Linked DNA regions of Homo sapiens: region 2 is linked to region 1. Evidence: fine-mapped expression QTL. Tissue or cell type: tibial artery. Region 1 holds a variant in brackets; the other region holds the start of a gene. All regions are shown on one strand. Distances are from middle to middle.

Region 1 (5,146 bases):
CATTACAGATGTGCAAATATAGGTTTCAGACATGTTGATGCTTACACTGAGAAGAAATATCTGCGAATTCCATGCTACCCACAAAAGGTCAAAATGACCTAGGGGAAAGGAAAAATGTTTAAATATTAGAGGCAGTTTTCAGAGAAAGAAAAAGGTTTTGAAAAATTGGAGAATAAAAAGTACTACGGTTTGATGCAAGTTGTAAAACTCCAAAAATAGCAGAAGATAAGTTGCTCTTAATTTAAAAACAGGGACACTAAAAGGATTTCTGTATGAGAAATTAGAGAATTATAACCATTAGACTTTCTCAGTTTAACTCAGGAAAGAAATATTCGTGCAACTGCTTTTACAAGGTACCAGGCTAGTACTGCAGAGGAATTTAATCTACAAGAGGTAAGGAAGACAAACACACAAATAATGGTGGGGGACAGGAATAGGGAAAGACCGATAACTGCCATGAAAGAAACAGAAGCCCAAACTGCTATGATTCAAACCACCCAATGGAGAAGAAGTTAAGAGGCAATTTTCATCTAAAGATACAGCATGTGAAATGAGACAGGCTCTTTGGAACAGGCAGGATTCCAACAGAAGATGAGAGAAAAGCCTTCCCATCAGAGACACCAGCAAGAGGCAAGAATGTGTAGAGCTTATTCCAGGCACAGATGGACAAAAGTCAAGGATGCAAGTAAGGAAGGAGGAGGATGTAAAAAGCCAGTAGGAAGGATAGGACCAAACCGCAAAGGATAAGACCAAACTGCAAAGGATCTTCATGTTCTTTGTAACTCACTCTAGAACTGTGAGCCACTCAACACTTTGAGGCAAAGGATGTGACCCTGGGTTAAGCTTTATCTAACAGTAGTATATAGCTTTGAAACCAAAAAGCCTTGACACTTGCTTCCTGTCAACAAGGGATAAAAAATCAATACTGACTTTTCCACTTGGAGCTGGGAAGACCAAGCTTCCCTGGCCCTTCCAGCATTGCATTCACTCTCAACAGCCAATTAAAAGGCTAAGGTCTATACCTTCTCTGCCCTCTTTATCATAATGGATCTAATAGTGAAAGTAGCTGGGTGAAGAGCATGATCCCATCCACCTGCGCTTTCACATCCAGCAGGCACTTTAAAAGTAAAACAATCCTATAATCATTTATATCCTTTGGGAAACAACCAAAGTATTTGTTGTGAATCTAAATATAGTCATGGGAAAATAAGAGTCCGATGGCAGAGGAACCACTGCGGAGAGCACAGCCCAGAGAGGATGTTGCCTTGAGTCTGAGGCCCTTGCTGACTGGTGTACCAGCGAGCCTTCCACTATTCCAGTCAACCCACACCGTGGCCCAGCAGCATGGGAGGAAAACACCCAACTATGCATGCTATGGAGTCCCCCCAGTGGTCTGCCATGCTCATAATATCCGACATGCACCCAGGAGATGTCCAGTCAGTAACTTAAATAGGGCAGCAGTACAAATTCCTCCTTAAAGGGAAATTATGCTAGCCACAGTGAGTGAAGCAGGGTCACCAGAGAACTGAGACCCTGGCCACTACCAACACTCATCTCCTACAGTGTATTCACCAATGTTACACTTTTACCGTAGGTAGAATGCTGAGGAGAACATATGTGAAGATGCCTACGATACTTCTGGGCCACCACTCTCTGTCTGCCAGGATCCAGTCTGGGCCCCACACTCTACCTGCCCACCACTCACCTCCCGGGTCCAGGGTTTCTACTACAGGGGAGCAGTACAGGGGAAAGTCTGGGACTCCCTTTTCATTTGTCTCTTTCTTCACTAGAAAATACACTCCACCAGAGAAGGGACCAGTTTTGTTTTGCTCACCCCAGTACCTGACACACGTAGGGCCCAAAATAAGTATTAGTTAAACAAAAAAACTAGTGTCAAATTTCCTACCATGAATATCATTAATGTATCTAGTCCTGAGTTTTATTTCAGCACTAAACCAGTCTTCTAACAAACTTGGCACCCTTTAACTTAAAAACACATAAGAAACAATGAGTCTGCAAGTTTTGGGGATGTGGCTGAGGGAACGTGTTGGCCAGGCAACTTACAGCAGCAAGATGAGCCAGCTTCCTGTGAAGCAGAAAGTAAAACTATTAAAAAAAAAAAAAAAAGTGTCAAAAACTGAATCATGCTTATGCCTGTAATCCCAGCAATTTGGGAGGACAAGATGGGAGGACTGCTTGAGGCCAGGAATTCAAGACGAGCCTATAGCAAGACCGTCTCTACAAAAAAATTAAAAATTTAGCTGGGTGTGGCAGGGCACGGCAGCTCACGCCTGTAATCCCAGCACTTTGGGAGGCCGAGGCGGGCGGATCACGAGGTCAGGAGATCGAGACATGGTGAAACCCTATCTCTACTAAAAATACAAAAAAAATTAGCTGGGCGGGGTGGCACACGCCTGTAGTCTCAGCTACTCAGGAGGCTGAGGCAGAATTGCTTCAACCCAGGAGGCAGAAGTTGCAGTGAGCCGAGATCG[T/C]GCCACTGCATTCCAGCCTGGGCGACAGAGTGAGACTTTGTCTCAAAAAAAAAAAAAAAAAAAATTTCTTTGCTGGGTGTGGTGGTAGCACACACCTCTAGTCCCAGTACTTGGGAGGCTGAGGCAGACGGATTGCTTGAGCCCAGGAGTTCGAAGTTATAGCAAGCAATGATAGTGCCACTGCACTCCAGCCTGAGTGAGAGAGGAAGATCCTGTCTCCAAAGAAAAAAAAAAAAGGCCTCAGACAACTTGGATTGATTTGGTTCTTTCTCTTCTCTCTCTCTCTCTTTCTTAGAGACAGGGACTCCCTCTGTCACCCAGGCTGGAGTGCAGTGGTGGGACTGAACTCACTACAGCCTCCTCCCACCAGCCTCCTAACTAGCTGGGACTACAGACGTGTGCCACCATGCCTGGCTAATTATTTTATTTTTAGTAGAGACAAGGTCTTGCTATGTTGCTCAGGCTGGTCTCAAACTCCTGAGCTAAAGCGATCCTCCTGCCTCAGCCTCCCGAAGTGCTAGGATAATAGGCATGAGCTACTATGCCCGGCCGTGAGGCCATTTTGTATTGGAGCAAAACACCCCAAATATTTCAAGAACCTATGAGGGTACTACTTAAATAACTGTTAATATTAGTAATAATAATTACTGTGGGCTCACTGCTTACTATGTGCCCAATTTTGTGTTAAGCCCCCTACCTGAATTAACTAATTTAATTTTCATAAAAATCCTAGATAGCTATTATTATCAGCCACATTTTAGAGATGAGACACCAGTCCAAGCTTACACAGCTAATCAGTAACAAAGCTGAGATCAGCCAGGCAATCTGCCTCCAGCATCCGCATTCTACCACATTGACGATAGCCTGATGCAATCACTGGAATCACCAAGAAAAACAGTTTAACTTTGTGCAATACTAAGTAAGAAAGCAGGGAACTATAATGATATGTTTGTACTGAATTATAAAAGTCTAAGTGTTGCTACTAAAGGCTCATGCCCTGGGGAGCAGAATTGAAGGCATCACGGCACGTTCCTGCTCTGCAATCTCCCAGTGCTCCGAGCACCAAGGGTCTGCTTCTGTCACCTTTCTCAACAAACTCTTCCCTGGTAAACCCTTCGTCTCCTTCATGATAATTCAATTCAGCCATGACTCAAACCACAAGCTGCAAGGCTAGGAAGGCTAAATGTATACTCTGGTTTTCAGGCCCCATACCTCATCCTGGAGCCAGCAGGGCTGAAAACGTTTACACCAGACACAAATGTGAAATGATACCCTGTCTCCCAATTTTAGTACCAAACCCATTAGTTTTGGCCATGCACTCCAGACCGACCAGATAATTACTTTGCCTAACCCCACATCCTGAACCCACAGGGGAGGATGGCTATCCCTAGGACAGGGCAGACCCCAATCACAGCCTTACCTTCCCCTTCAGCGTCTGCAAAGCATCCAGGTAGGCTGCCAGCATGGGCAGACTCAAGGTCTCCACAAGGGTGGTGTGCAGCCACTGGATCAGCTTGGTATCCCAGCTCACACTTGCCAGAGCCTGCCGCACTCTCCTTGCACACTTGTCCACAGCAACACGGCGCAGCACTGGCTCATTACAAGCCTGAAGGATGTAAGTGGAAGTAATAAAACATGAGGACTACCTGGTTAACAAGCAGGGGGACAAGTCAGTCAGCCAGTGAGGCCTGAACTACGAAGAGCCCACTGTGGGCGGATTGCTGGTGTCTTACCCCTTCGTTGGCCAAGCGGGCAAGCCGGTCAGACTGCAGGGCTTTGAGGATCTTGTTGAATAGCTTGTTCTGGGCCATTGTCCAGCCAGTCCTATAAGGGAAACTCTGAGGAATTATAGTCAAACCCTGGGGACGCTCCCCATGTATGTACACCATATAAAGAAGATTATGCCATAGTTTTATGTCTCTGCTAGGGAACAGTAAAACGAAGTAGCTTAGTCTAAGACCACTGACCTAAAACACAAGACCTAGATTCTTCTGGTCTCAATCCTACCAAATCAAATCGTCACAGCACACACTTGTATTAATAATACACACATACACACAATAATATACACAGTACAAGTCAAGACTAGTCATGAAAAAAGTCTTTCAGGCTAGCAAAGCTAATTACTTACTTAGTAGCTAAAATTATTCCAATCATAAATAAACGCACAGCACCACTGAACAGACGACATATTTGAATTTCATAAGTTTTATATTTCACACAAAAAGGCAGACAGGATCAGCAAGCATTTTAATGTACTAAAATCTCAGACTGAGGTAAGAATTCTATTTAAACTAGGCTTAAGAACAAAAATATAGCAGAAATATAACCAATAAAGAGGCTATTCTTCCACTCCTCAATATTCTACCCCACACTAATCTCTCTTTTCCATATATATTTTTTGTATTTTTTCTATATGCCACACAATTAGCAAATTTATTTTTGAGAGGCCTGCTCCATATAAGCTAATATGTTATCATCCCAGCATACGGCACTGGTATTCACACATCTACCTTATTGCTTATTGCTTACCTATTACTTACTGAGGCTTTGTGTGTTGCAGACATCTATCCTACTGTTCTTATCTCCACCTCATCACACCCAGTTTAGTGATATGGAGCTTATTATTGTCCCCCTTCACCCCACTCCCAGCA
Region 2 (5,146 bases), 200 kb after region 1:
GACGTGGAGACAGAAGTGAGAACTAAAGGAGCTGAATCTATTGTAATGTTTGCACTTTTTTTTTCTTCAGAGGCATGATGTTGCAGTGCAAAGGCCCAGTAATGTCTTTATTGCTTCTGCTGGCGGCTTACTCTGTAATCTGCAAAAGTAAGGTAAACTCAAAGGGCACAGAACATCACCTGAATAATAAAAAACACGGAGATGCCCCATTGGCCTAGTCACAGCTCTGAGTTTACAATGCAGAAGAGACACTATTACCATCTTTTAAAAATACACTATTACCTTTTTTTTTTTGAGATGGAGTCTCGCTCTGTCACCCAGGCTGGAGTGCAGTGGTGCGATCTTGGCTCACTGCAACCTCCGACTGCCTCCCGGGTTCAAGCGATTCTCCTGCCGCAGCCTCCTCAGTAGTTGGGACTACAGGCACCCGCCACCAAGCCCGGCTAATTTTTTGTATTTTTCGTAGAGACGGGGTTTCACCGTGTTAGCCAGGATGGTCTCCATCTTCTGACCTCGTGATGTGCCCGCCTTAGCCTCCCAAAGTGCTGGGATTACAGGCATGAGCCACCGCGCCGGGCCACTATTACCATTTTTTTTTTTTTGAGACATAGTCTTGCTCTGTCGCCCAGGCTGGAGTGCAGTGGCGTGGTCTCAGCTCACTGCAAGCTCCGCCTCCCGGGTTCACACCATTCTCCTGCCTCAGCCTCCCGAGTAGCTGGGACTACAGGTGCACGCCACCACACCTGGCTAATTTTTTGTATTTTTAGTACAGATGGGGTTTCACCATGTTAGTCCGGATGGTCTCGATCTCCTGACCTCGTGATCCGCCCGCCTCCGCCTCCCAAAGTGCTGGGATTACAGGCGTGAGCCACCGTGCCCGGCCAGCTATTACCATCTTTTAAAAAGTTTTTTACAGGCCGGGCGCGGTGGCTCACGCTTGTAATCCCAGCACTTTGGGAGGCCAAGGTGGGTGGATCACGAGGTCAGGAGATCGAGACCACGGTGAAACCCCGTCTCTACTAAAAATACAAAAAAATTAGCCGGGCGTGGTGGCGGGCGCCTGTAGTCCCAGCTACTCGGAGAGGCTGAGGCAGGAGAATGGCGTGAACCCGGGAGGCGGAGCTTGCAGTGAGCCGAGACTGCGTCACTGCACTCCAGCCTGGGTGACAGAGCGAGACTCCGTCTCAAAAAAAAAAAAAAAAGTTTTTTACAAAGCCTTTTCCTTTGGTCACTCACCACCAGCTTACTCATTTTTTTTTTTTTTTGCACATTACCTTCCACACAAGTTTTACTTTGTGGCCACAATGTGCATACTTTTTTTGATTGTTACTTTCATGACATAGCAAATTGTTTCTATAGAGTCTTTATAAAGGTCATTTAAAATGACATGTGCAGTAAGTCAAAGTCTTCTTGTGCTAGGAAATTTGAAAAAACAAAAGTGTAGAGAAAAATACAAAAATTACTGAATCTGAACATCTATAGAGAAGTGTTGTTAGCAGTTGGTTTATTTCCTTCCAATCACATACAGATCATATCTGATGGGTAAAGAATATTCCATACTGTCAACAGACCACACTGTCTTCTAAAATCGCTTCAGCAGTGAGGATCCTCTGGAATAGATCTTGTTAATCCTGAGGAATTATTCTCCCAGCGGTGAGCTATGAGAAGTGGAATCACCAGATGTAGTAATTCCTGACAGAACTGCCGCCTGCTTGTGTGGCTGAGATGCTGACCTAGGTATCAGGCTGGTCGCGCCGGAACCCAGCACCCACGCTGAGTCTTTCTGAGCTCCACTCTGCTCCTGTTAGATATTAACCACCTGAGGTAGCTGTCCAGATTCAAGGCGGTAGTGATTTTGTGTGTCTGTGTATTTATCACGGGGTCCGCGGCGGGAACGCAGGGGCTGTGTCCCACGTCCCCAAACCTCTAGTAGGGTACGGCGCGATGAACATCTTCCATAAACCTTAAACCTCCCGGCGCTCAGTCACTGGTTCTTATTTCAGCCCTCTTAGCCCCGTAGGTCGGCGCGCTGAAAACCTTTCTGGTACCTGGGGCCTTTCCTAAGAAAAAGGCACATGTCTCGCACATTTCAGTCTGGTCTGCAACTTCAGGCGCGCCAGCACCCGAGGTTCTTCCGACCGGCCGCTCCGCTCCCAAGCCGGGAACTTCCCAGAGAATTGGCTCGGCCTCCGGGCGCGGGGGACAGCATCGGGAGGAGTGGGACTCCGGGCGCCGCGCACGGGCCGAGGACAGCCGGGCTTGGGAGGCCCTGCCCGCCGCCCCGCGTCCTCCCGGCCACTGCCACCCCGCGCATCCGGAGCCGCAGCAGACTCGGCGGGGCCCGGAGCCCCACGCCCCCGGCCCGCCCCTGGCCGCCACTTGTTTACTCCCCGGCGCAGCCTAGTCCGACCCTGGGGCCCGCCCCCGCCCACCGCCTATTGGCCGAGGAGGCGCGAAGAGCCGTAACGATTGGCCCGGGGAGGCGCGGGGCGAGCGGGGTAGGCTGCGCGAGAGGCCGAGAGGGGGCAGCAGGCGATGGCGGCGGCGGTAGCTGCGGCGGGTCGGTTAGGCTGGTTGTTCGCCGCGCTCTGCCTGGGCAACGCCGCGGGGGAGGCCGCGCCGGGCCCGCGAGTGCTGGGCTTCTGCCTGGAGGAGGATGGAGCGGCGGGCGCGGGTTGGGTACGCGGAGGGGCGGCGCGGGACACGCCGGACGCCACCTTCCTCCTGCGCCTCTTCGGCCCGGGCTTCGCCAACAGCTCTTGGTCCTGGGTGGCCCCGGAGGGGGCGGGCTGCCGGGAGGAGGCGGCCTCCCCCGCGGGCGAGTGGCGCGCGCTGCTGCGCTTGCGCCTGCGGGCCGAGGCCGTGCGCCCGCACTCGGCGCTGCTGGCGGTGCGCGTGGAGCCGGGTGGCGGGGCGGCTGAGGAGGCGGCGCCGCCCTGGGCTCTGGGCCTGGGGGCGGCCGGGCTGCTGGCGCTGGCAGCGCTGGCGCGAGGCCTGCAGCTGAGCGCGCTGGCGCTGGCGCCTGCCGAGGTGCAGGTGCTGCGCGAGAGCGGCTCGGAGGCGGAGCGTGCGGCGGCGCGGCGTTTGGAGCCCGCGCGGCGCTGGGCCGGCTGCGCCTTGGGCGCGCTGCTGCTGCTGGCCAGCCTGGCGCAGGCGGCGCTGGCGGTGCTGCTGTACCGCGCGGCCGGCCAGCGTGCGGTGCCCGCCGTGTTGGGCAGCGCGGGGCTCGTGTTCCTGGTGGGAGAGGTGGTGCCGGCCGCCGTGAGCGGGCGCTGGACGCTGGCGCTGGCGCCGCGAGCGCTCGGCCTCAGCCGCCTGGCCGTCCTGCTCACTCTGCCCGTCGCGCTGCCCGTGGGGCAGCTGCTGGAGCTGGCGGCGCGGCCCGGGCGGCTGCGGGAGCGGGTGCTGGAGCTGGCGCGCGGCGGCGGCGACCCCTACAGCGATCTCAGCAAGGGCGTGCTGCGCTGCCGGACCGTGGAGGACGTGCTCACGCCCCTCGAAGACTGCTTCATGCTGGACGCCAGCACCGTGCTGGACTTCGGCGTCCTGGCCAGCATCATGCAGAGCGGCCACACGCGCATCCCGGTGTACGAGGAGGAGCGCTCCAACATCGTGGACATGCTCTACCTCAAGGACTTGGCCTTCGTGGATCCCGAAGACTGCACGCCGCTCAGCACCATCACTCGTTTCTACAACCATCCGCTCCACTTCGTCTTCAACGACACCAAGCTGGACGCTGTCCTGGAGGAATTCAAGCGAGGTAACGGCCCGGGCATGGTGCAGGGGACGCCCGTGCGAGTGCCCTCTCCCTGAAAAGGGGTGGAGAGTTATGGAAGCCTTCTGGAAAGGGTCCCACCCCTGTGGAGAGCAGTGAGACCTCTAAGGTCCCTTTTCAAGACGGTATTGGCCTTGCAGCTTGGAATGACCTTTTGAAATACTTAAAGGCCATCGATCAGAGTGGGAGGAATCCTTTAGACAGCGAACACTTTAACCCCCGCGTCAGGATAGCCCCCCCCCCCCATTTGCAGGGAGGGGTATGTCCGCTTGTCCTCTAATCCCCCAGCTCTTTCCCTCTCCCAGAGTGTTTCTGTGTGCTTGACTTTGTAGCAGGTCCAAATTTTTGGATAGAAACTAGAAGAACATAGAAAAGATGGTAGTCTCCAGGTATCTGGGATATTGTTGTGTGCACACATGTAATATCAAATTGACTGGACCTGTAATGTTTCCTTCAGAGCATTCTTAAGGTCCCTGGCGTTACTGCAGATAAGGGTATTTAGGTGTCAATCCCTTATCTGCGGTAAAGTCAGGGAAACTTAACACTTTGCTTTCACCAAAAGTAACTCCATTTATGCTGACTTAGTCTCCCTTTCTCCCAGCTCTGTCGCGCAGGCTGGAGTGCAGTGGCCGATCTCTTATCACTGCAACTTTCGCCTCCCAGGTTCAAGCAGTTCTCCTGCCTCAGCCTTCGAGTAGCTGGGACTACAGATGCACCCCACCATTCCGGGCTAATTTTTGTATTTTTAGTAAAGATGGGGTTTCACCACGTTGACCAAGCTGGTCTTGAACTCCTGACCAGGTGATCCACTTGCCTCGCCCTCCCAAAGTGCTGTGATTGCAGGCGTGAGCCACTGTGCCCGGCCCTTTTTTTTTTTTTTTTGCTTTTTAATCTCCTGTTTTTTAAAATTTTATGTAGAGACAGGGTCTCACTATTTTGCCCAGCCTGGTCTCGAACTCCTGACCTCAAGTGATCCTCCCACCTTGGCCTCCCAAAGTGTTGGGATTACAGGCGTGAGCCACCGCGCCCAGCCTCACCTCTTCTTTTCTAACCCTAAGGTCTCAAGTTCTCCCTTAACTCCACATTTTCATCCCTCCCTTCACTGTTTTAGCTGAGCAGTTCGGAGATTGAAGGTAAAACCAGTACCCTCCGGATGTGAAGGTGTGGTTTCTTCTGCAGTCCTCTCCAACATCATCCTTAGTGGTGCTCCCCAGAGTTTGGTGCTCAGACCTTGGTTAACAGCCATGCTTCTCACACCTGCACTCCTGTAGGGTGAGGGTGGGAGCACCCCAGGGTGTTGGATGGACTTGACCCTAAAGGCTGCCAGCTGTAAGGCCAAGAAGTGGCAAAGCCCCCTGGTATTTGTGGCAG

Which allele goes with the higher level. Positions count from the first base shown, and alleles are read on the strand shown. Sizes are in standard deviations (SD) of each study's normalised expression.
For the expression in tibial artery of the gene that starts at base 2,526 in region 2, allele T in region 1 goes with a lower level than allele C (moderate effect, 0.41 SD a copy in GTEx).

Evidence for each region. PIP is the estimated chance that this variant, and not a neighbour inherited with it, causes the effect.
Region 2: it holds the start of CNNM3, and the variant in region 1 is fine-mapped to the expression of CNNM3 in tibial artery (GTEx, PIP 0.96).

What each region holds. Positions count from the first base shown.
Region 1 is chr2:96,615,447-96,620,592 of GRCh38, forward strand. It overlaps KANSL3 (KAT8 regulatory NSL complex subunit 3), which reads right to left. Exons shown (of 21, transcript NM_001115016.3): 4 at 4,226-4,316; 5 at 3,913-4,098. Among named protein-coding and RNA genes, the nearest start is that of KANSL3, 20 kb to the right of the region's middle. The variant T/C (reference allele first, on the strand shown) is at 2,493.
Region 2 is chr2:96,813,743-96,818,888 of GRCh38, forward strand. CNNM3 (cyclin and CBS domain divalent metal cation transport mediator 3) reads left to right here and starts at 2,526. Exons shown (of 8, transcript NM_017623.5): 1 at 2,526-3,760. The coding sequence starts at 2,536. RefSeq lists an enhancer at 1,673-1,792 and silencers at 2,133-3,112, 3,123-3,262, 3,273-3,382.